Linked DNA regions of Homo sapiens: region 1 is linked to region 2. Evidence: fine-mapped expression QTL. A gene starts in region 2. The other region holds a variant in brackets. All regions are shown on one strand. Distances are from middle to middle.

What was found.
Region 1: its variant is fine-mapped to the expression of ZKSCAN5 in whole blood (INTERVAL, PIP 0.98).

What each region holds. Positions count from the first base shown.
Region 1 is chr7:99,472,859-99,483,536 of GRCh38, reverse strand. It overlaps ZNF789 (zinc finger protein 789), which reads right to left and starts at 10,647. Exons shown (of 5, transcript NM_213603.3): 1 at 10,481-10,647; 2 at 7,057-7,134; 3 at 3,750-3,876. The coding sequence starts at 7,080. RefSeq lists an enhancer at 10,358-10,647. The variant A/G (reference allele first, on the strand shown) is at 5,329.
Region 2 is chr7:99,499,002-99,509,679 of GRCh38, reverse strand. ZKSCAN5 (zinc finger with KRAB and SCAN domains 5) reads right to left here and starts at 5,018. Exons shown (of 7, transcript NM_145102.4): 1 at 4,947-5,018; 2 at 3,222-3,675. The coding sequence starts at 3,635. It overlaps ZNF394 (zinc finger protein 394), which reads left to right and starts at 9,399. Exons shown (of 3, transcript NM_032164.4): 1 at 9,399-10,042. The coding sequence starts at 9,587. RefSeq lists a silencer at 643-836 and enhancers at 4,352-4,431, 4,812-4,991, 5,382-5,431, 9,789-10,068, 10,291-10,678.

The DNA of each region.
Region 1 (10,678 bases), 26 kb after region 2:
GCCTCAGCCTCCCAAGTAGCTGGAACTACAGGCACAGCGCCCCCACGCTTTGCTAAGTTTTGTATTTTTATTAGAGATGGGGTTTCACCATGTTGGCCAGGCTGGTCTCGAACTCCTGACCTCAGGTGATCCACCCGCCTTGGCCTCCCAAAGTGCTGGGATTATAGGCTTGAGCCACTGTACTTAGCCAACTATTTATTTATTTATAAATTTATTTATTTATTTATTTTGAGATGGAGTCTCTGCTCTGTCGCCCCCACCCGGCTAATTTTTGTATTTTTATTTTTATTTATTTATTTATTTTTGAGACGGAGTTTCACTCCTGTCATCCAGGCTGGAGTACACTGGCACCATCTCTGCTCACTGCAACCTCCGCCTCCCGGGTTCAAGTGATTCTCTTGCCTCGGCCTCCCAAGTAGCTGGAATTACAGGCATGTGGCCACCACGCCCAGCTAATTTTTACATTTTTAATAGAGACGAGGTTTCACCATGTTGGCCAACTGGTCTCGAACTCCTGACCTCAGGTGATCCACCTGTCTCGGCCTCCCAAAGTGCTGGGATTACAGGCGTGAGCCACCGTGCCCAGCCCAACTATTTATTAAAATAGGAAAACACTGCCTATGTATTTTAAAGCAGAATACAAAACTCATATATAGCATGATCCAAATTTTTTTTATTTTTGAGACAGAGTTTTGCTCTTGTTGCCCAGGCTGGAGGGCAATGGCACAATCTTGGCTCACCACAACCTCCGCCTCCCGGGTTCAAGTGTTCTCTCCTGCCTCAGCCTCCGGAATAGCTGAGATTACAGGCATGTGCCACCACGCCTGACTAATTTTGAATTTTTAGTAGAGACAGGGTTTCTCCATGTTGCTCAGGCTGGTCTCGAACTCCCGACCTCAGGTGATCCGCCCACCTTGACCTCCCTCCCAAAGTGCTGGGATTACAGGCATGAGCCACCATGCCTGACCCCAAATTTTGTTTTAAAAAACTATGTAGTGTGTATGTTATGTGTGTGTGTGTATAAGTAATTAATACAGTTTGAACATCCCTAATCCAAAATGCTCCCAAATCCGAAACTTTCTGAGCACTAACCTGATAAAAGTGGAGAGTTCCACACCTGACCTCACGTGACCAGTGGCAGTCAAAACGCAGGTGCACAACACACAGTTAATTCAGCCTTCCCCAGGGAAAAACAGAGATTGGCACAATCTTTGTAAATATCTGGCAGTCTTTATTGAAAGCCTGAACAATGTTCATACCTTTGGCTGTGGTCATTTCGCTCTTAGAAATATAGCCTAAAGTACAATTGCAACCAAGATGAATGTGCCAGAGACGTTCAGCACAGTGGTATTGCAGCATCAAACTGGAAATAAACTGAATATCAAAAGGGAACAATTAAATCAAGCGTAGCTTGAAGAAGCTACATGTCTAAGGTGTATATGAAACATAAGTGAATTTCTTGTCAGATCCTCAAATTATCTTATTATATATTTATGAGTATTCCAAAATCCAAAAAAGAAAAATCCGAAATCCAAAACACTTTTGGTCCCCAGCATTTTGGATAAGGGATTCTTTCCCTGTAATAGACACATAGACGGACTGGGAAAAAGTAAACCAAAATGTTAATAACAAGAGTTACTTCTGGAAAGTAGGCCTGCAGGTGATTTTTATTATCTACTCTATTTACTGATGTATTTTCCAAAATTTCTGTAATGAAAATTATTTTTAGAACTAGTAAAATCCATAAAAGAAGGCAGTGATATAGTAAAGAAGCACTCTCAGCTGGGTGCAGTGGCTCACACCTGTAATCCCAGCACTTTGGGAGGCTGAGGTGGGCGGGTCACCCGAGATCGGGAGTTTGAGACCAGCCTGACCAACATGGCGAAACCCCGTCTCTACTAAAAATACAAAATTAGCTAGGTGTGGTGGCACATGCCTGTAATCCCAGCTACTCAGGAGTCTGAGGCAGGAGAATCACTTGAACCGGGGAGGCAGAGGTTGTGGTGAGCTGAGATCCTGCCATTGTACTCCTGCCTGGGCAACAAGAGCGAAACTCTGTCTCAAAAAAAAAAAGAAGCACTCTAAAATGTTACTATTGGATATGCAAAACAGTACAAAGTTTGTTGAAGAATCATTCAGTAATCAATAAAGATTAAAGTGCCATCTCATTTAACTTCAAAATTCTGATTTTGGGAAAGTATCTTGGGAAATGATCAAAAATTCATGCAAAGATTTATACTCAAACATCTATTCAAACATTATAAATACACAAGCAAACCAACGAACAAACAAAGGCAAGCTCAATGTCCCCACATGGGAAAACAATGAAATATTTTTATGGACCACACAATGGAATTATATTATGCTCGTTTACTGATTATGTGGGGAAATGCTGATACAATAATGTTACATTTAAAACAGATTACAGGATTGCACATAGAATATGCTCAGCTACTTTTGTAAAGGCATAGGAAAAAAAGACTGGCAGGAAACCTTCCAAAATATTAACAGTGTTACCCATGAACACTTTCCTCTTCTCCTCCTTTTCTATGCCTTCCATGTACTTATGTATGCTCCTGTAATGCTTTTAAAGGGAAAATTAAAATTATAAAAATCCAGAGGTGGGTGGACAGTCCCACAGAGGTGGTCAAGACTCTGTGCTAAGAGTGTCAGTGCAAGGGTTAAACATGTGACCCCGGAAAGAAAACTATTTAGCAAGGCAACTCCCACAGTGGGAGACTACAGTGGACTAGGACAGGGTAGGCTCCTGAAAAGAATGGAAGCAGTGAAGGTTCAGAAATGAAGTTGGTTGAAAATCATTTCCTGAGCACCCACTAATGTTACACACCAAGAAGTTACCCATTTCCAGAGAAAAGAAAGAAAAAGACTTTCAAGAGCATAAGAAGTGAGCCTTTGGAATGTAAATCTACCATAATTCTCAACTCCTGGAGGTCTTACAGATGAGGAACACGAGGTGAGAGTGAAGAATGCATGAAGTGTCTCGGTCTGAGCCCTAACACAACACGACTATTCACTGTCCCCAGTCCCTTATGTGAAACCCTTAGGACCAGATGTGTTTCAGGAGTCAGAATTTTTCCCATTTCAGAAAGGTGACCTGGTGTAAATATTTTACATAACGTATCATCCCCAGTAGGGTTTGGAGTGGTGCCCTCAAATACACTGTTATTTTTGTTGTTGTTTTGTTTTGTTTTGAGACGGAGTCTCGCTCTGTCACCCAGGCTGGAATGCAGCGGCATGATCTCGGCTCAATGCAACCTCTGCCTCCCGGGTTCAAGCGATTCTCCTGCCTCAGCCTCCCAAGTAACTGGGACTACAAGCGTGCACCACCACACCAGGCTAATTTTCGCATCTTAAGTAGAGCTGGGTTTCACCATATTGGCCAGGCTGGTCTCAAACTACTGACCTCATGTGATCCACCCGCCTCGGAATCCCAAAGTGCTGGGATTACAGGTGTGAGCCACCGCACCTGGCCTACACTGTTATTTCTGAAGTTGGGTATACAGATATGCACACCAAGTTGGAAAAATAAAGACAATAAATGGTTTCCTATAGGATGAAGTCAGGTTTCACTGTGGTGATGTCTGGTCAGGGCTTGTAGCCACACGAGTTATAAAAAAACCTTTCGGTTTTCACCGCTTTTTCTGATTCTGGAATTGCAGATAAGGGACTAAGGGCTTGCACAGACACTCAGAACACAGACAAAGCCCAATCTTCAAGCCGTGTCCTACCCAGCAAGACCATGTTCCTGTAGTTCTCCAACATCACATCTCGGTAGAGGTCCTTCTGACCCCAGTTGAGGTGGCCCCACTCCTCTCTGGTGAAGTACATCGCCACATCCTCAAACGAGAGCAGCTCCTGGAAAAGTAGCTGATAAAGGTAACTGCAATTCTTAAAATAACTTACGCTCAATGATTATTCCACAGCTGAGGAAACCAAGGTTTGGGAGGTAGAGTGTGGGCCAAGGGCACCCAATTCATAAGGAATATATTCAGGGCTCCTTTCAGGCCTGATGGCCCTCAGGCCAGACATGTGCTGGCTTCCATACCACGGGGTCGACACAATTAATCTCTAAAGGGCCAGATGGTAAATATTTTAGGCTTTTCAGGCCCTCTGGTCTCTGTTCCAGTTCCTCAAATCTGCTGTTGATTAGAGGAACAGCAAATCAACAATCTGAGGAACAGCCTTTGTGTTGGAGCACAAAAGCAGCCGTGGACAAGTAAGCGAATGGGCACAGCTGTGTTTCAGGGAAACTTTACCAAGCGGTCCAGGGCAGTTTGCTGACCGCTGCTCTATAAAAATAACCTATTGCTTCTGCCCCAGGTTCCTTAGGAAAGAGATGAGGTCACTGGGGGGTTGGTTAATGTGCAGACTATTTACAAAGGGATGAATAGTCTCAATGAACATGAACAAGAAATGTGGAAGCTCGCAGGTCCTGGCCACCCTGGGGAACCAGGGCCTGCTAGGTCTGAAGGGGTAAGGTGGGGAGGGCTGCTGGAGCCCAGAAGGCTGCTGGAAGGGGAGCAAGACCAGCTGCGGCTGAACAGGATGCAGCCACACCCATCCCACAGCCCAGTGGGGAGGGAGCCGTGGGAAGAGAAACCCAACCTCAGTTTTCCCCAGGCCTCCGGCGCCCTGTCCCCTGTCCTCCAACCCTCTTCATCCCATTGCCACAAGCCAAGCAGATGCCAGAGACCAGGGGAGCCCGTTGCTGGAGAATATAAAAGGTACAGACCAAGGCGCAGACGCCTGGGGAGCATATCCAGAGTGGGCAACAGTGGACACAGCACAGTGAGCACAGGGGACATTACATCTGCAAGTGACTGCCCCCTCCAGTGGGCTGAGCACTGAAGCTGCCACACTCTCCCTCCCACACCACTGCAGCCCTCTGGGCAAAGGGGCCCAGCGGCTGTCTACACACTCCTTGCTCTCACAAGACACTGCATGGGTTCAGAGGGGATGTGTGCAGGGAAAGGGCAAACGTTCGCTGTCCTATAAGTGGTCAGTAACAGGAAATGCCCACCCCCATCCTGAGACCATCCTGAGAAGCTTCACGTAGCTCCCCTCTGCAGGCAGGCACCAGAACCTCCCAAATTATACGGACTTTCTTTCCTGCCTATCAAACCTGAGTTCCACTGCTACGGTTGCAGGCCCTTTCTCACCATTATCCAGAGTGTCACTCTTTTACCAGAGCTGCGCTGCCATGTCCTCAATCTGACCTACTCAGCCATCTGCATTCCCGCACCTGCACAAGGTTAACAAGCATGGGAATAAAATGGCTTCATCTCCCAGAGTCATTGTGGCATGGTA[A/G]CTCCTCTCCTAACATCCACAATAGGTTCTTGGAAACTGATTTTTAGCAAAAGTATGTACAGCAGCAGGTCCTTGAATAACTTTGTTTCACTGTAACACTGATGGAAAAAAAACGGTTTTGATATACATAGTTTCCCTTAAAGTTGCAGTTTCCAAGAACCCATCAACAGCTAGGACTTGTACATTGACAGATGGGCACCAAATGTTGCTTAAAAGTTCCATTTTTTGTTTGTTTGGGTTTTTGTTTTCGTTTTTGTTTTTTGAGACAGTTTCGCTCTTGTTGCCCAGGCTAGAGTGCAATGGCGCGATCTCGGCTCACTGCAACCTCCACCTCCTCGGTTCAAGCAATTCTCCTGCCTCAGCTTCCCAAGTAGATGGGATTATAGGCATGCGCCACTATACCCAGCTAATTTTTGTATTTTTAGTAGAGATGGAGTTTCACTATATGTTGGCCAGGCTGGTCTCAAACTCCTGACCTCAGGCAATCCACCCCCCTCAGCCTCCCAAAGTGCTGGGATTCCAGGCATGAGCCACTGGTCCTCTCCTTTCTTTCAAACTCAGTCTCTTCTAGGCTGGGCGCGGTGGCTCACACCTGGATTCCCAGCACTTTGGGAGGCTGAGGCTGGTGGATGGCTCAAGCCAAGAGTTCAAGAACAACCTGGGCAACATGGTGTAACCCTGTCTCTACAAAAAATACAAAAGTAACCAGGCGTGGTGGCATGTACCTGTGGTCCCAACTACTTGGGAGGCTGAGGTGGGAGGATCACCTGAGCCTGGGAAGGTCAAGGCTGCCATGAGCCATGATCATGCCACTGCATTCCAGCCTGGGCAACAGTGTGAGACTCCGTCTAAAAAAAGACAAAACACAGGCTGGGCACAGTGGCTCACGCCTGTAATGCCAGTACTCTGGGAGGCTGAGGTGGGTGGATCACGAGGTCAAGAGATGGAGACCATTCTGGCCAACATGGTGAAACCCCGTCTCTACTAAAAGTACAAAAATTAGCTGGGCGTGGTGGCACTCGCCTGTAGTCCCAGCTACTTGGGAGGCTGAGGCAGGATAATCACTTGAACCCGGGAGGCAGAGGATGCAGTGAGCTGAGATCGCGCCACTACACTCCAGCCTGGCAACAGAGTGAGACTCCGTCAAAAAAAAAAAAAGACAAAACAACTCAGTCTCTTCTAATCACCCTCCATAATGCTACAAATTCAATAACTGACCTTCCATTATACCCGTTCATAGGAACAGTTCAGAATTTATTATGAGAAGTTCCTTACACAACTATCTCTCTAATCAGGTTGTAATCTCCTACAGGTAAGAGTTGATCTCCCAGCACAGAAAACAGCACCTGGAGTGTACAGCAGTAGGTGCACAATAATGCTCACAGACAGAAACAATGGGCAACTACTACGGTAATAAGAGCAACAACTTAACACAGTGCTAAACGAGTAACCAGATACTGCACAAAGGACTTCACAGGGTGTTTTTCATTGAATCTTCACAACTCGCTGTGATAGGCACTCTCACTGACCCATTTTACAGAAAAGAAAACTGGAGCCAGAGTGTTTATGTAACTGAAGGAAGCCCATGTGACTCCAGAGGCTAAGCTCTCTACATTGCACTGTCTAAGAAGGAAAACTCCCCACATTGATCAAGAGGGCTCAGTCTGAGGAAGGAGCTGCTGGTGGCAGTGACTATGCTGATGAAGCAGAGGGGGAGGCACAGCTCACCTTCCCCCTGGCTGGTGGGAACATGGCTTCCACGGCCTGGTCTTTTGCAAGGGGTGGGATCCTGGACGTCTGGCTGAGCTGGAGAAGAAAAAAAGTCAGTAAGGCCAGCCCTAATTTGAAGCTCTCTTGGTTGGCAGATCTGGGACCCGGAATTCCAACGGGGCACACAGACAAAGCTTAATACAAAGTCCCTGTGTTTGGTGTTGGAACATGTGATGAAATGCATGAGCCGCTACAATAAGTCTAGTAATTTCAATTTCCCAAGCTCCATCCAAGAGAACCTGCAGCCCTGCCCTCCCCTTCTCCCTAGAACATGTCATACTCTGCACCTCATATACAAAGGGACAGCAGATAGACCACATATAAACATAGCACTCTGGCCAGGCACGGTGGCTCACGCCTATAATCCCAGCACTTTGGGAGGCTGAGGCGGGTGGATCACGAGGTCAGAAGATGGAGACCATCCTGGCCAACATGGTGAAAGCCCTTCTCTACTAAAATACAAAAAATTACCTGGGCGAGGTGGCAGGCACCTGTACTCCCAGCTACTTGGGAGGCTGAGGCAGGAGAATCGCTTGAACCTGGGAGGCGGAGGTTGCAGTGAACTGAGATTGTACCACTGCACTCCAGCCTGGTGACAGAGCAAGACTCCATCTCAAAAAAAAAAAAAAAAAGAAAGAAAAAATAGCACTCTGATCCACACCCTGCAGCAACCAGCTCTGGAAGCCAAACCATAGCCTCTGAGGCATGGGCCCCAAATCAGGACTTGATCAATAACAGCTTTATCCAAAATTTTGCTCCCCACTCCCTTTAATTTAGGACCAACAGGAGAAAGCCAAATGCTCCCCTCCCCTATCACACAGGATGTCCGAGTCTAGTTATCCTAGGGATTCCAGTTCACCAGCTTTTCTTTCTCTAAATCTACTTACGTATTTCCAACCCTGCTCCTACAGCCAGCTCCACCTGCTGACAAGCCCCCTCTGAAAGTGTTCTAAAGGGGTCACTCAACCCTCACCTCTAGCCTGGTGATTTGCTAGCAGGATTCAGCAACAGTAACAATTACAGACTTGATTTTTTTTTTTTTTTAAACAGAGTTTCACTCTTGTTGTGCAGGCTGGAGTACAATGGTGTGATCTCTGCTCACTGCAACCTCCGCCTCCTGGGTTCAAGCGATTCTCCTGCCTCAGCCTCCGGAAGTAGCTGGGATTACAGGCACCCGCCGCCATGCCCAGCTACTTTTTTGTATTTTTAGTTGAGATGGGGTTTCACCATGTTGGTCAGGCTGGTCTTGAACTCCTGATCTCAGGTGATCCACCCACCTCAGCCTCCCAAAGTGCTGGGATTACAGGCGTGAGCCACTGCGCCCAGCCTACAGACTTGCTTTCTAACTCAGGATGAATTTTAATGAAATTCACTTTCATTTTAATGGATGCCCCTCAAACACAGTTCACCTTCCCTGAAAACAGTTTAGAAGACCCTTTGCCTTTCTTTTTTTTTTTGAGGAGTCTCCCTCTATCACCCAGGCTGGAGTGCAGTGGTGTAATCATGGCTCACTGTAGCTTCCAACTCCTGGGCTTAAGCAATGCTCCTGCCTCAGTCTCCTAAGCAGATGGGACTGCAAGAGTGCACCACCACGCCCAGTTGTTTGTAGTTCTTTTGTAGGTGGGGCCTTGCTATGTTGCCCAGGGTGGACCCTCTGCCTTTTAAGCAAAGAGGTACACTCTAAAAACTATCCTGATCAATGGCTCCAAGGCTGGAGCAAAGGCCTCATCCCTTTCATTCTCTACACCAAACTTGTCCAAACCTCAGCCTGTGGACCGCATATGGCCCAGGACGACTTTGAATCCAACCCAACACAAATTCGTAAACTTTCTTTTTTTTTTTTTTGAGGTGGAGTCTCGCTCTGTCGCCCAGGCTGGAGTGCAGTGGCGCGATCTCGGCTCACTGCAAGCTCCGCCTCCCGGGTTCACGCCATTCTCCTGCCTCAGCTTCCCGAGTAGCTGGGACTACAGGCGCCCGCCACCACGCCCCGCTAATTTTTTGTATTTTTAGTAGAGACGGGGTTTCACCGTGTTAGCCAGGATGGTCTTGATCTCCTGACCTCGTGATCCTCCCGCCTTGGCCTCCCAAAGTGCTGGGATTACAGGCGTGAGCCACCGCGCCCGGCTCGTAAACTTTCTTAAAACCTTATGAAATTGTTTTGCGATTTTTTTTTAGCTCATGAGCTATTTTTAGTGTTTGTGTATTTTATGTGTAGTCCAAGACAATTCTTCTTCCAATGTGGCCCAGGGAAGCCAAGAGATTGGACACCCCTGCACTATATTTACTGAATGTGTTTGTGAAGGCTGTGCATCTGAATGTCAGACTTGCTAATGAAAAATTAAATGGAGTCCATGTTTTGGGTACGGCCCTAGGCCAACCACCCACAGCCATGTAAGGCATTTAAAATACATTGATTTCTCCCTTGAGTTCAGGAGTTGGAGACTGCAATGAGCTATGATGGCACCACTACACTCCACCCTGGGTGACAGAGCAAGACCCTGTCTCTCTTAAAAACAACAGGCCGGGCGTGGTGGCTCACACCTGTAAATCCCAGCACTTTGGGAGGCCGAGGCGGGCGGATCATGAGGTCAGGAGTTCAAGACCAGCCTGGCCAACATAGTGAAACCCAGTCTCCACTAAAAATACAAAAATTAGCCGGGCATGGTGGCGCGTGCCTGTAGTCCCCGCTACTCGAGAGGCTGAGGCAGGAGAATCGCTTGAACCCGGGAGTTGGAGGTTGCAGTGAGTCGAGATTGGCCCATTGTACTCCAAACTGGGCAACAGAGTAACACTTCGTCTCAAACACAACAGCAACAACAATTCCTTATTTCCCTGAAAAGTGTGCGCTGACCAGGAAAGAAGCTTTTTTCTCGTCCGCATGATAAACTGAACCAATCAGCTACAGATGCGAGGCTGATCCAGCTCGACTTACCCTAGAAGGAATGCAAGTTGATAATGGCCAATTACAATCAAGATCACTGCACTTCCTCATTTAGCTTTCCAAGCTGCCATTGGAACAATTTGCCAGCTGTTCCTCTGCATGCACAATAAACTCTTAAAACTTTAACTGGAGGGGACTGTTAACTTTTGACAAAATCCAAAATGCCGCTTCACAATCACGTGAACACCTTCCACTAACAACCACGGCTCATCTCCCACTCTAACAAAACCAAGTCCAGGCGTTCACCATCCATTCATTCTTCGGACTTTGCTCCTCTCGCTGCCGAAGACTTGACACCGCCAAAAATACTCAAAAGCTGGTGCCACAGGCCCCGAGAGCCGCCGCACAAACCCGGAGCGTCCCCTGCGAGCCGGGGGTGTGCGCAGTGGCCTACCCCCCGCACCCACGCCCCCCACAACACTCGTTTCCTTCTCCCCAAACCTGCTGACGGCTCCGAATCTCCGCCAAGCCGCCTCCACCAGGGGCTGGGCTCTCCTCTCGGGGTTCCCGGGCCTGACCCGAGGTCTGTCTGGTCCGCGCCCCTCGGCGAATCACCCCTTACCGGAGGAACAGACACAACCACTCTGGCAGCCTCAGAGCCTCTCGCTGGCTCCACCTGCGCGCGCCGAGCGAAGCGTC
Region 2 (10,678 bases):
CCTGGCTAACACGGTGAAACCCCGACTCTACTAGAAATACAGGAAATTAGCCGGGCATGGTGGCGTGTGCCTGTAGTCCCAGCTACTTGGGAGGCTGAGGCAGGAGAATGGCATGAACCCGGGAGGTGGAGCTTGCAGTGAGCAGAGATCACGCCACTGCACTCCAGCCTAGGCAACAGAGTGAGACTCTGTCTCAAAAAAAAAAAAAAAGTGCTGTGGTCAAACAAAAGAAATTTAATTGAAATTTCACAGATATGGTCAGGCGTGGTGGCTCACACCTGCAATCCCAGCACTTTGGGAGGCCAAGGCAGGTGGATCACCTGAGGTCAGGAGTTTGAGAACATCCTGGCCAACATGGTGAAACACCATCTCTACTAAAAATACAAAAATTAAGCCGGGCATGTGGCTTACGCCTGTAATCCCACCACTTTGGAAGGCAGAGCCAGGAGTATCACCTGAGGTCAGGAGTTTAAGACCAGCCTGGCCAACATGGCGAAACCCTGTCTCTACTAAAAATACAAAAATTAGCTGGGCATGGTGGTGCATGTCTGTAATCCCAGCTACTCGGGAGGCTGAGGCAGGAGAATCACTTGAACCCAGGAAGCTGAGGTTGCAGTGAGACAAGATCGCACCACTGCACTCCAGCCTGGGTGACAGAGTGAGACTCCACCTCAAAAAAATAAAAATAAAAAAACTAAAAAAATTAGCCAGGCGGTAGTGGCACATGCCTGTAATCCCAGCCACTTGGGAGGCTGAAGCAAGAGAATTGCTTGAGCCTGGGAGGTGGAGGGTAAGCCAAAATTGCACCATTGCACTACAGTCTGGGTGACAGAGTAAGACCTTGTCTCCAAAAAAAAAAAAAAAGAAAGAAAGAAAGAAAGAAAGAAAAATTTCACAGAAATAAAATATTGTATCTTTTTTTTTTTTTTTGAGATGGGAGTCTCGCTCCATCGCCCAGGCTGGAGTGCAGTGGCGCAATCTCGGCTCACTGCAACCTCTGCCTCCCAAGTTCAAGCGATTCTACTGCCTCAGCCTCCCAAGTAGCTGAGACTACAGGTGCATGCCACCACACCCAGCTAATTTTTGTATTTTTAGTAGAGACGGGGTTTCACCATGTTGGCCCGGATGGTCTTGATCTGACCCCATGATCCACCCGCCTCAGCCTCCCAAAGTGCTGGGATTACAGGCGTGAGTCACCATGCCCGGCCAATATTGCATCTTATGTACTGGCAATCATGACCAATTTTGATAACATTGTTCTACCAGGCTATGGCCACAAAATTTCTCTCATACATTGTTGGTGGTACTCTAAATTGTTATACCCTCTATGAGGGAACCAACCTGTCAACAGCTATCAAAATTACAAATGTACTTTTTTTTTTGAGATGGAGTCTCGCTCTGTTGCCAGGCTGGAGTGCAGTGGCACAATCTCGGCTCACTGCAACCTCCGACTCCCAGGTTCAAGCGATTCTCCTGCCTCAGCCTCCCGAGTGCCTGGGATTACAGGTGCGTGCCACCACGCCCGGCTAATTTTTGTATTTTTTAGTAGAGATGGGGTTTCACCATGTTGGCCAGGATGGTCTCGATCTTCTGACCTCATGAACTGCCCACCTCGGCCTCCCCAAGTGCTGGGATTACAGGCATGAGCTACCGTGCCCGGCCTACACATGTATTTCTAAGCCAACAATTTTGAGTTTCAAGCATTCCTTCTACAGTTAATTTTATATACATATATTTTTTCAATTTAAATTTTTTTAACTTTTTACTTTTTTTTGAAATAGGGTATGCCTCTGTCACACAGGCTGGAATACAGTGGCAAAATCACAGCTCACTGCAGCCTCAAACTACCAGGTTCAAGGGATCCTGCTGCCTCAGCCTCTTGAGTAGCTGGAAGTATAAGTGCATGCCACCACACCCAGCTAATTTTTTGTTTGGTTTTTCTGGTAGAGATGGGGTCTCGCTATGCTACCCAGGCTGATGTGGAACTCCTGGTCTTAAGTGATCCTCCCACCTCAGGTGCCCAAAATGCTGGGATTACAGGTGTGAGCCACTGCGCCCAGCCTATATATATACATATATATATACACACACACATAAATATACACATATATATACACATATATATACATATATATACATATATATATACACATATACATATATACACACATATATATACACATATATACATATATACACATATATACACATATATACGCATATATATACATATATACGCAAACACATACATTATGTATATTACATACACACATATATACAGACATATATGTGAGATAGTCATTGCAGCAAAGTTTGTTATAATACAAATTTAGAAACAATCTCAAGGAACAATTTAAATGGAACAACTCAAACTCCTTCCATAAAAGTTAATACAATGCAATTTCAGAGAGTGAGATAGCTGCAATGGCAGTGGCGTGGAAGAAACCAAGATATAAGAAAAAAGAGGCAGAAGTGCACAGTGACTTAAAAGACATTTGCGTTTTTCCAAAGTATGAGACGTATATATGCTTATACATACAGAATATGGTACAGCTCTGTAAGAATACACAGGTGAGAACTAGGCAGTTGAGAGAAATTGGGGATGGGAGGAAAACTTACTTTTCATTACAACCTTATGTACCTCTTTGAATTTTGTATCATGTCACTCAAAAAATAAATACAGTGGCCGGGCATGGTGGCTCACGCCTGTAATCCCAGCACTTTGGGAAGCCGAGGTGGGAGGATCACGAGGTCAGGAGATCGAGACCATCCTGGCTAACACGGTGAAACCCCGTCTCTACTAAAAATACAAAAAAAAAAAAAAAAAAAATTAGCCGGGCCTGGTGGCGGACGCCTGCAGTCCCAGCTACTCCGGAGGCTGAGGCAGGAGAATGGCGTGAACCCGGGAGGCGGAGCTTGCAGTGAGCCGAGATCGCACCACTGCACTCCAGCATAGGCGACAGAGCGAGACTCCGTCTCAAAAATAAATAATTAAATAAATACAGTAATTTAAAAAATAAATAAGATCGCAGATTGTCTTCTACAGGTTAACACACTGGATATTGCTTCTCTTTGCTGGAGTGGCAGGAAGTCACAGGGTACCTAATCCCAGGAGAACAAAAGAATATGAATGAAGCAGCAGAGGACTAAGAATCTCACCCCTGCTCAGCAGATGGTTCACTCCTCTCCTTCATTGCTCATATAGCTTCTCTTTGACTCACCTGCTGTCTGCGTTCCTCAAGTTCTCGCTGTATATTTTCTATCACGGCCACCGCCTCTTCTCCACTTTCAGGGTGATGTTCCCTCACCCAGGGCTGGAACTCTTCAGGCAGGATGGTCAGGAACTGCTCCAGCACCAGCAGCTCCAGGATCTGCTCCTTCGTGTGCAGCTCGGGCCTCAGCCACTCACAGCAGAGCACCCGGAGTTGGCTGAGAGCCTCCCGGGGTCCTGAAGCCTCATGGTACTGGAAGTGCCTGAAGCGCTGGTAAAAAGTCTCAAACGTTGGCGGGTTGTACTCCTGCATCCAGGTGCAGTCTTCTTCTTCCACCTTCACTATGAAAAGGTCTTCCTGCTCCTGGGAAGTCTCAGCTGGGGGGTCTAAGTCTATAACTTCTCGGGATTCGGTCATTATCATTCCAACTCAGAGGGAAGTCTTCGAGGCTGGCTGTGTTACACTGAAACAATTGTTTTTCTGCTCTTTAATATCTTCTGAAGGACACTTTCAGTAGCATGCAACCTACTGATGTATTGGGCATCATTATTAGCAAAGACAGATGGCAAAGAGGTCATCTATACTAAAGACGACCACTCAACAAAGTAATTTACTTAAAAATAGGTACTACAAGGTAGCCATCACTTCACCCACAAAATGATAATAAGGAATAACCCCAACATTTTAAAAGTGTAAAAGAGAGCCATACAAATCTGACATCAGGCCCAACCTAAAACACAGTTTTAGAGTGAAGAACTTTACATTCCATATAAATAACGGGACGAGACTAACTAGTCCAGACGCAGCCGCTCTTTCTCTCTACCATAAGACGAACTTAAGTCGGAATAAGGGTGAAAATCATTATAATGGTCAAAACTGAGCCTGTTCTCTAAGCTACAAGAGCTTGACAGGCCAAGGGGAGACTCCATCGGTCCCAAAGAGAAGCAGCGTTTATAAGGTACAGATCTGGACCTGGATTCCTCAGAATGGCCCCTGACCCCGAGATACAGAGACTGTGGCCCGGTCAAGGTTAGGGACAGGACCCCCGTCCAGTCACGAAGCCCCTGCCCCCTCCCCTCAAGGCCCCACTCTAGGGGAGCTCTCCTGGAACATCAAGCTCCCCGCAGCCGAGGCTGGGAAGATGCGGTTCTTCCCACGGAGAGAAACCGAAGCCGACACTCCCCAACACTTCCTCGCCGGAAGTAACCAAGTCCAATCTTGCCCTGTCCAACGGGGTTAAACCGTTAGATCCCACCCCCCCCCGAAAGCACTTCCGCGTCCTCTCTAGGAATCCCGGAGGACCTCACCTCGCACGGGGGGCGGACCAATCGGCGGGGAGATGGGACGCGGGCCCCGAGTCCCAGCCCACCCTCAGTGACTCGGACGTCTCCAGGGCCCCCGAAGCCGCTCGCACAGCATCACCAAAGCGGGGAGGCAAACGGAGCCACTCTCTCCCCTGCTCCATCCCAAAGCCATTCAAACAGCCCAAGCTCCTCCCCTTTCCGTGGGGCGGGGAAGGGGGCGGGGCCTCCAGAGTTGGGCTGAGGTTGCTCGTGTCTGATTGGCCGGGGAGCTTGCGCCTTCCCCCACCCCCAACGCTCTGCGCCCCGATTTGAAGTAGGTCTGTACCTTGCTGACAGCCCGCAAACCTCGCTTATGTTGAATTTGGGGCCCTTAGGTTTTCTTCACCCGCATCCTCGCTACTCTCACCACCCACTTTCCAAACAAACCCACCTCTTGACCACCGCAGTCGGCTCAGAAGGCCGACATCTTCAACGTCACACCCGCGAGTCGCAGGGGCCAGCTGTTCCCGGAACTACATCTCCCAGGAGGTGGCGCGCGGGACTCGCCGGTTGGCCAATGGGGGGCGGCTCTCTTTGCAGCCTCGGTCTCGCGAGCCTATCAGAAGGTGGCAGGGCCCGGAGTCGTGTCCTCGGGAGCCAAGGCTGGAAGGCTGGGAGTGGGCGGAGGGAGCGGGGCATCCCTTTGAAGAGAGGGGCGTTGCTTACGCAGGGCTTCCCTGGCCAAGGGGGTCTCGTCCTTAATGATACCTCTCTTCAGCCAGGCGCGGGGTCCCACGCTTGTAAGCCTAGCTAGTGGACAGGCTGAAGAAGCAGGATCGCTTGAGCCCAAGAGTTCGAGACCAGCTCGGGCAACATAGCGAGACCCCTGTCTATTAGAAATACCCTCCCTTGGCCGGGCTCGGTGACTCACACCTGTAATGCCAGCACTTTGGGAGGCCGAGGTGGGTGGATCACCTGAGGCCAGGAGTTCGAGACCAGCCTGGCCAACATGGTGAAACCCCGTCTCTACTAAAAATACAAAAACTTAGCTGGGCGTGGTGGCGCGAGCCTGTAATCTCAGCCACTTGGGAGGCTGAGGCAGGAGAATCACTTGGACCCGGGAGGCTGAGGATGCAGTGAGCCGGGATCGCACCATTGCACTCCAGCCTGGGCAACATAGTGAGACCCCATCTCTTAGTAATAATCTCCCGTTTTTGTTTTGTTTTGTTTTGTTTTTTGAGACGGAGTCTCGTTGTCCCCCAGGCTGGAGTGCAATGGCACGATCTCGGCTCACTGTAACCTCTGCTCCCAGGTTCGGGCAATTCTCCTGCCTCAGCCTTTCGAGTAGCTGGGATTACAGGCACACTCACCACGCCCGGCTTATTTTGTATTTTTAGTAGAGACGGGGTTTCCCCATGTTGGCCAGGCTGGTCTCGAACTCCTGACCTCAGGTGATGCGCCCGCATCGACCTCCCAGTGCTCTCCTTTTCATATGGTGCTTTATAGTTTCCAGGCCCCAGCCCTCCCCTCCCCCTACGCCCCGCGCAGTTTACAAAGTTGATGGGCAGGCAGGAGAAGAGTTACTGTTGCCACTGTTTTACAGGCGCGAAGGAAGGAACTGCTGTGAAATTGCAGCATCTGCAAAAAGATGAGAAGATATTTAGAAGTTAAAGGTCTCTTTTCAGGGAGCCCAAAATCTTGCATTTTAAGTAGCTTCCTATCTAGGACCAAACCCCCGGTGAATGTTTGCAATGCCCGTATTTTGTGTGTTAGTGAGTTGGTATAGAATTTTGCACCTATGGCTTAATTTTGTTGCTCGTATAAAGTTGTTTAATGTCTATGAAAGTTGTTCCAGATGGGCATGGTGGCTCACGCCTGTAATCCCAACATTTTGGGAGGCCGAGGTGAGAGGATCACTAGAATCCAGGAGTTGAAGACCAGCCTGGCCTTTTTACCCCGTCTCTACAAAAAATAAAATAAAATTAGCTAGGCATGGTGGCACATGCCTATAGTCTCAGCTACTCAGCAGGCTGAGACTGGAGGATCACTTGAATTCAAGAGGTTGAGGCTGCAGTGAGTTATGATTGTGCCATTGCACTTCAGCACCTCAGTGACAGAGACACCCCGTCTCAAAAAAAAAAATGTTTGGTGGATACCCATTCTTTTCTAATATATTTACCTCCATTTAAATGATTTATTTATTTGTTTGTTTATCTATTTATTTTTTTGAGACGGAATCTCACTCTGTCGCCCAGGCTGGAGTGCCGTGGCATGATCTCGGCTCACTGCAACCTCCGCCTCCCGGGTTCAAGCGATTCTCCTGCCTCAGCCTCCTGAGTAGCTGGGATTACAGGTGTGTGCCACCACACCTGGATAACTTTTTGTATTTTTAGTAGAGATGGGGTTTCACCGTGTTACCCAGGATGGTCTCCATCTCCTGACCTCGTGATCTGCCTGCTTCGGCCTCCCAAAGTGCTGGGATTACAGGCGTGAGCCACCGCAACCGGTTTGAATTATTTATAAACACCTTTTGCATTTCAATAATTTATTTCTTAAATAGATAACACATTTGCATGAGTCAAAATTCAATAAGGCACTTAAGGTCTTCCTCTCATTCTCATTCTACATTCATTTTTCTCTCTAGAGATAGCCAAGATGACTAGTTTCCTTTTTTTTTTTTTTTTTTTTTTTTTTTGAGATGGTTTTGCTGGTTGCCTAGGCTGGAGTGAATGGCACGATCTTGGCTTAGTGAACCTCTGCCTCCTGGGTTCAAGTGATTCTCCTGCCTCAGCCTCCCGAGTAGCTGCGATTACAGGCATGCGCCACCATGCCCGGCTAATTTTGTATTTTTTAGTAGAGACGAAGTTTCTCCATGTTGGTCAGGCTGGTCTTGAACTCCCGACCTCAGGTGATCCCCTCGCCTCGGCCTCCCAAAGTGCTGGGATTACAGGCGTGAGCCACCGCACCTGGCTCCATAAGAGATATTTTTATGTCTAGTTATTAAACACACCTGGATTGATAAATAGTGTTCGGTTTGTTTGGGCGTGGGGTGGGGAGGGGGATTGCTTGAACCCAGGAGGCAGAGGTTGCAGTGAGCCGAGGTCAGGAAATCAAGACCATCCTGGCTAACATGGTGAAACCCCGTCTCTACTAAAAATACAAAAAATTAGCTGGGTGTGGTGGCACGCGCCTGTAATCCCAGCTACTTGGGAGGCTGAGATAGGAGAATCGCTTGAACCCGAGCGATACTCCCTCTCAAAAAAAAATTTTTTTATTTTTATATGGAGACACATCCTCTCTATGTTGCTCAGGCTGGCCTGGAACTCCTGGTCTCAAGCGATCGTCTCATTTTATGCAAGTTGCAAATCACCAGCAGCTTGACATCAACCAAGACACTTTGTTTTAGAGACAGAGTCTTGCTCTGTCACCCAGGCTGGAGTGCACTGGTGCGATCATATCTCACTGCAGTCTTTACCTCCTGGGCTCAAAGGATCCTCCCACCTCAGCCTCCCAAGTAAGTGGTGTATCCTGAGTTGGTTCCTTCCAGTGGGTTCATCCTCTCGCTGACTTCAAGAATGCAGCCTCCGACCTTCACTGTGTTACAGCTCTTAAAGATGGCACGGACCCAAAGAGTGAGTAGCAGCAAGATTTATTGTGAAGAGCGAAAGAACAAACCTTCCACAGCATGGCAGAGCACTCCAGCCGGTTGCCTCCGCTGACTGGGGTGGGAGCTTTTAGTCTCTTATTTGTCCCCTCCCATGTCCGTTTCTGTCGTATCAGAACGCCCTTTTTTCCATCCTCCCTGCGATTGGCTGCTTTTAGAATCCTGCTGATTGGTCCATTTTACAGAGCGCTGATTGGTGCATTTTACAAACCTCTTGCTAGCTACAGAGCGCTGATTGGTGCATTTTTACAAACCTCTTGTAAGACAGAAAAGTTGTCCAAGTCCCCACTGGACCCAGGAAGTCCAACTAGCTTCACCTCTCACTGGGACTACAGGTGTGCACCACCACACCCAGCTAATTTTTTATTTTTTGTAGACATTGGGGTCTCCAATTCTTGGCTTCAAGCGATCTTCCCCCCTCAGCCTCCCAAAATGCTGGGATTACAGGCATACGCCACTGAGCCAGGCCAGGACACATCTTTGAGCCTCAATTTCCTCATCTTTTTTGTTTGTTTGTTAGGATCAAAGTCGTTAACATCTGATGTACATGGAAGCACTTAGTTTTAAAAAAAAAACAAAACTTTTTCCAACTGGGCGCAGCGGCTCACGCCTGTAATCCAGCACTTTGGGAGGCCGGGGCAGGCGGATCACGAGGTCAGGAGTTCCAGACCAGCCTGACCAACATGGTGAAACCCCATCTCTACTAAAATACAGAAAGTAGCCGGGCATGGTGGCGCGCGCCTGTAGTCCAAGCTACTCAGGAGGCTAAGACAGCCTGGCGACAGAGCGAGAGTCCGCCTGAAAAAAGAAAAAAAAACAACTTTGTCCAACCTGGGCAATATAATGAAACCCCATCCCCACAGAAAAATTAATAAACCGGGCGTGGTCGCGCGCACCTGTAGTCCTAGATACTTGGGAGGCTGAAGCTGGAGAATTGCTTGAACCCGGGAGACAGAAGTTGCAGTGAGCCGAAATCGCGCCACTGCAGTCCAGCCTGGGCGACAGAGCCAGACCCTGTCTATTTAATCCTGAAGGTTCCCGCCCTTGCCGGAGCTCGGCCACCGGCTCGGACGCCCGTATTTCCTCGGGATGCGGGAAACCGTCAAGACCCTCTGCGTCGGGCGGGGCTAGGACGATAAACCAGCGAGATGCACCTCACCCCATCAGGCGCCTAGAGAGGCCCCGGAAATGCAGGGAAAGGTGCCGCAAGGCCTCGATGACGCGCTTCCGGCACGGGATGTTTTCGGTTGTTTGACCGAGAGAGTTGTAGGCGCAAAGCTGAGGAAAGGAGAGTGTGGAGAGGGGCCTGGTGTGGTGGGGCCCGGTGTTTGGGACCGGAGGGTGTTGACGGCTGATGAGTTCCTTGGGTTTGCTCTTTCTTCACCTGAAAAGAAGACTCCAGGAAGGGCAGCACATGCCGGAGAAAGATGAATTCCAGCTTGACCGCCCAGAGGCGCGGCAGTGACGCCGAGTTGGGACCCTGGGTGATGGCTGCGAGGTCCAAGGACGCGGCGCCGTCCCAACGCGACGGACTTTTGCCCGTGAAAGTGGAGGAAGACTCACCCGGAAGTTGGGAGCCCAACTATCCCGCGGCTTCGCCGGACCCCGAAACTTCTCGACTGCACTTTAGGCAGCTGCGTTACCAGGAGGTGGCTGGACCGGAAGAGGCGCTGAGCCGGCTCCGAGAACTCTGTCGTCGGTGGCTGAGACCCGAGCTGCTCTCCAAGGAGCAGATCCTGGAGCTGCTGGTGCTGGAGCAGTTCCTCACCATCCTGCCCGAGGAGCTTCAAGCCTGGGTGCGAGAGCACTGCCCAGAGAGCGGGGAGGAGGCGGTGGCCGTGGTGCGGGCTCTGCAGCGAGCGCTCGATGGAACCTCATCCCAGGTGAGAAGCGAAAGGCCTGTTCTGGAGGTGGGAGTGTGGAAAATAGGCGTTTAGGGGTGCTCTGCGTTTCGGAACTTACTTCCTTATTACATTTCGTGTGAACATTGGGGTGTGTATGGACTTCCTTTCTGTAGGCCACAGTGACAGATCCATCCAGGAAATGACTTGTTATAGACCTCAGCATAAAGCGAACACGGATTACTGGTTTTCTTTCTTTTTCTTTTCTTTTTTTTTTTTTTCTTGTTGTTCTTGCTGTTGTTTGAGATGGAGTTTCACTCTTGTTGCCCAGGCTGGAGTGCAATGGCGCGATCTCGGCTCGCTGCAACCTCTGACTCCCGGGTTCAAGCGATTCTCCTGCCTCAGTCTCCCGAGTAGCTGGGATTACAGGCGCCCGCCACCACGCCCGGCTAATTTTTGTATTTTTAGTAGAGACGGGGTTTCACTGTGTTGGCCAGGCTGGTCTCGAACTCCTGACCTCAGGTGATCCGCCCGCCTCGGCCTCCCAAAATGCTGGGATTACAGGCGTGAGCCACCGCGCCCGGCCTTGTTTACTTTTAATCTGTATCATATTTCCATTCCCATACATCACAGTGATATAAGTTAAAGAAATATTTTGCTCCTACCTACCTCCAAAAT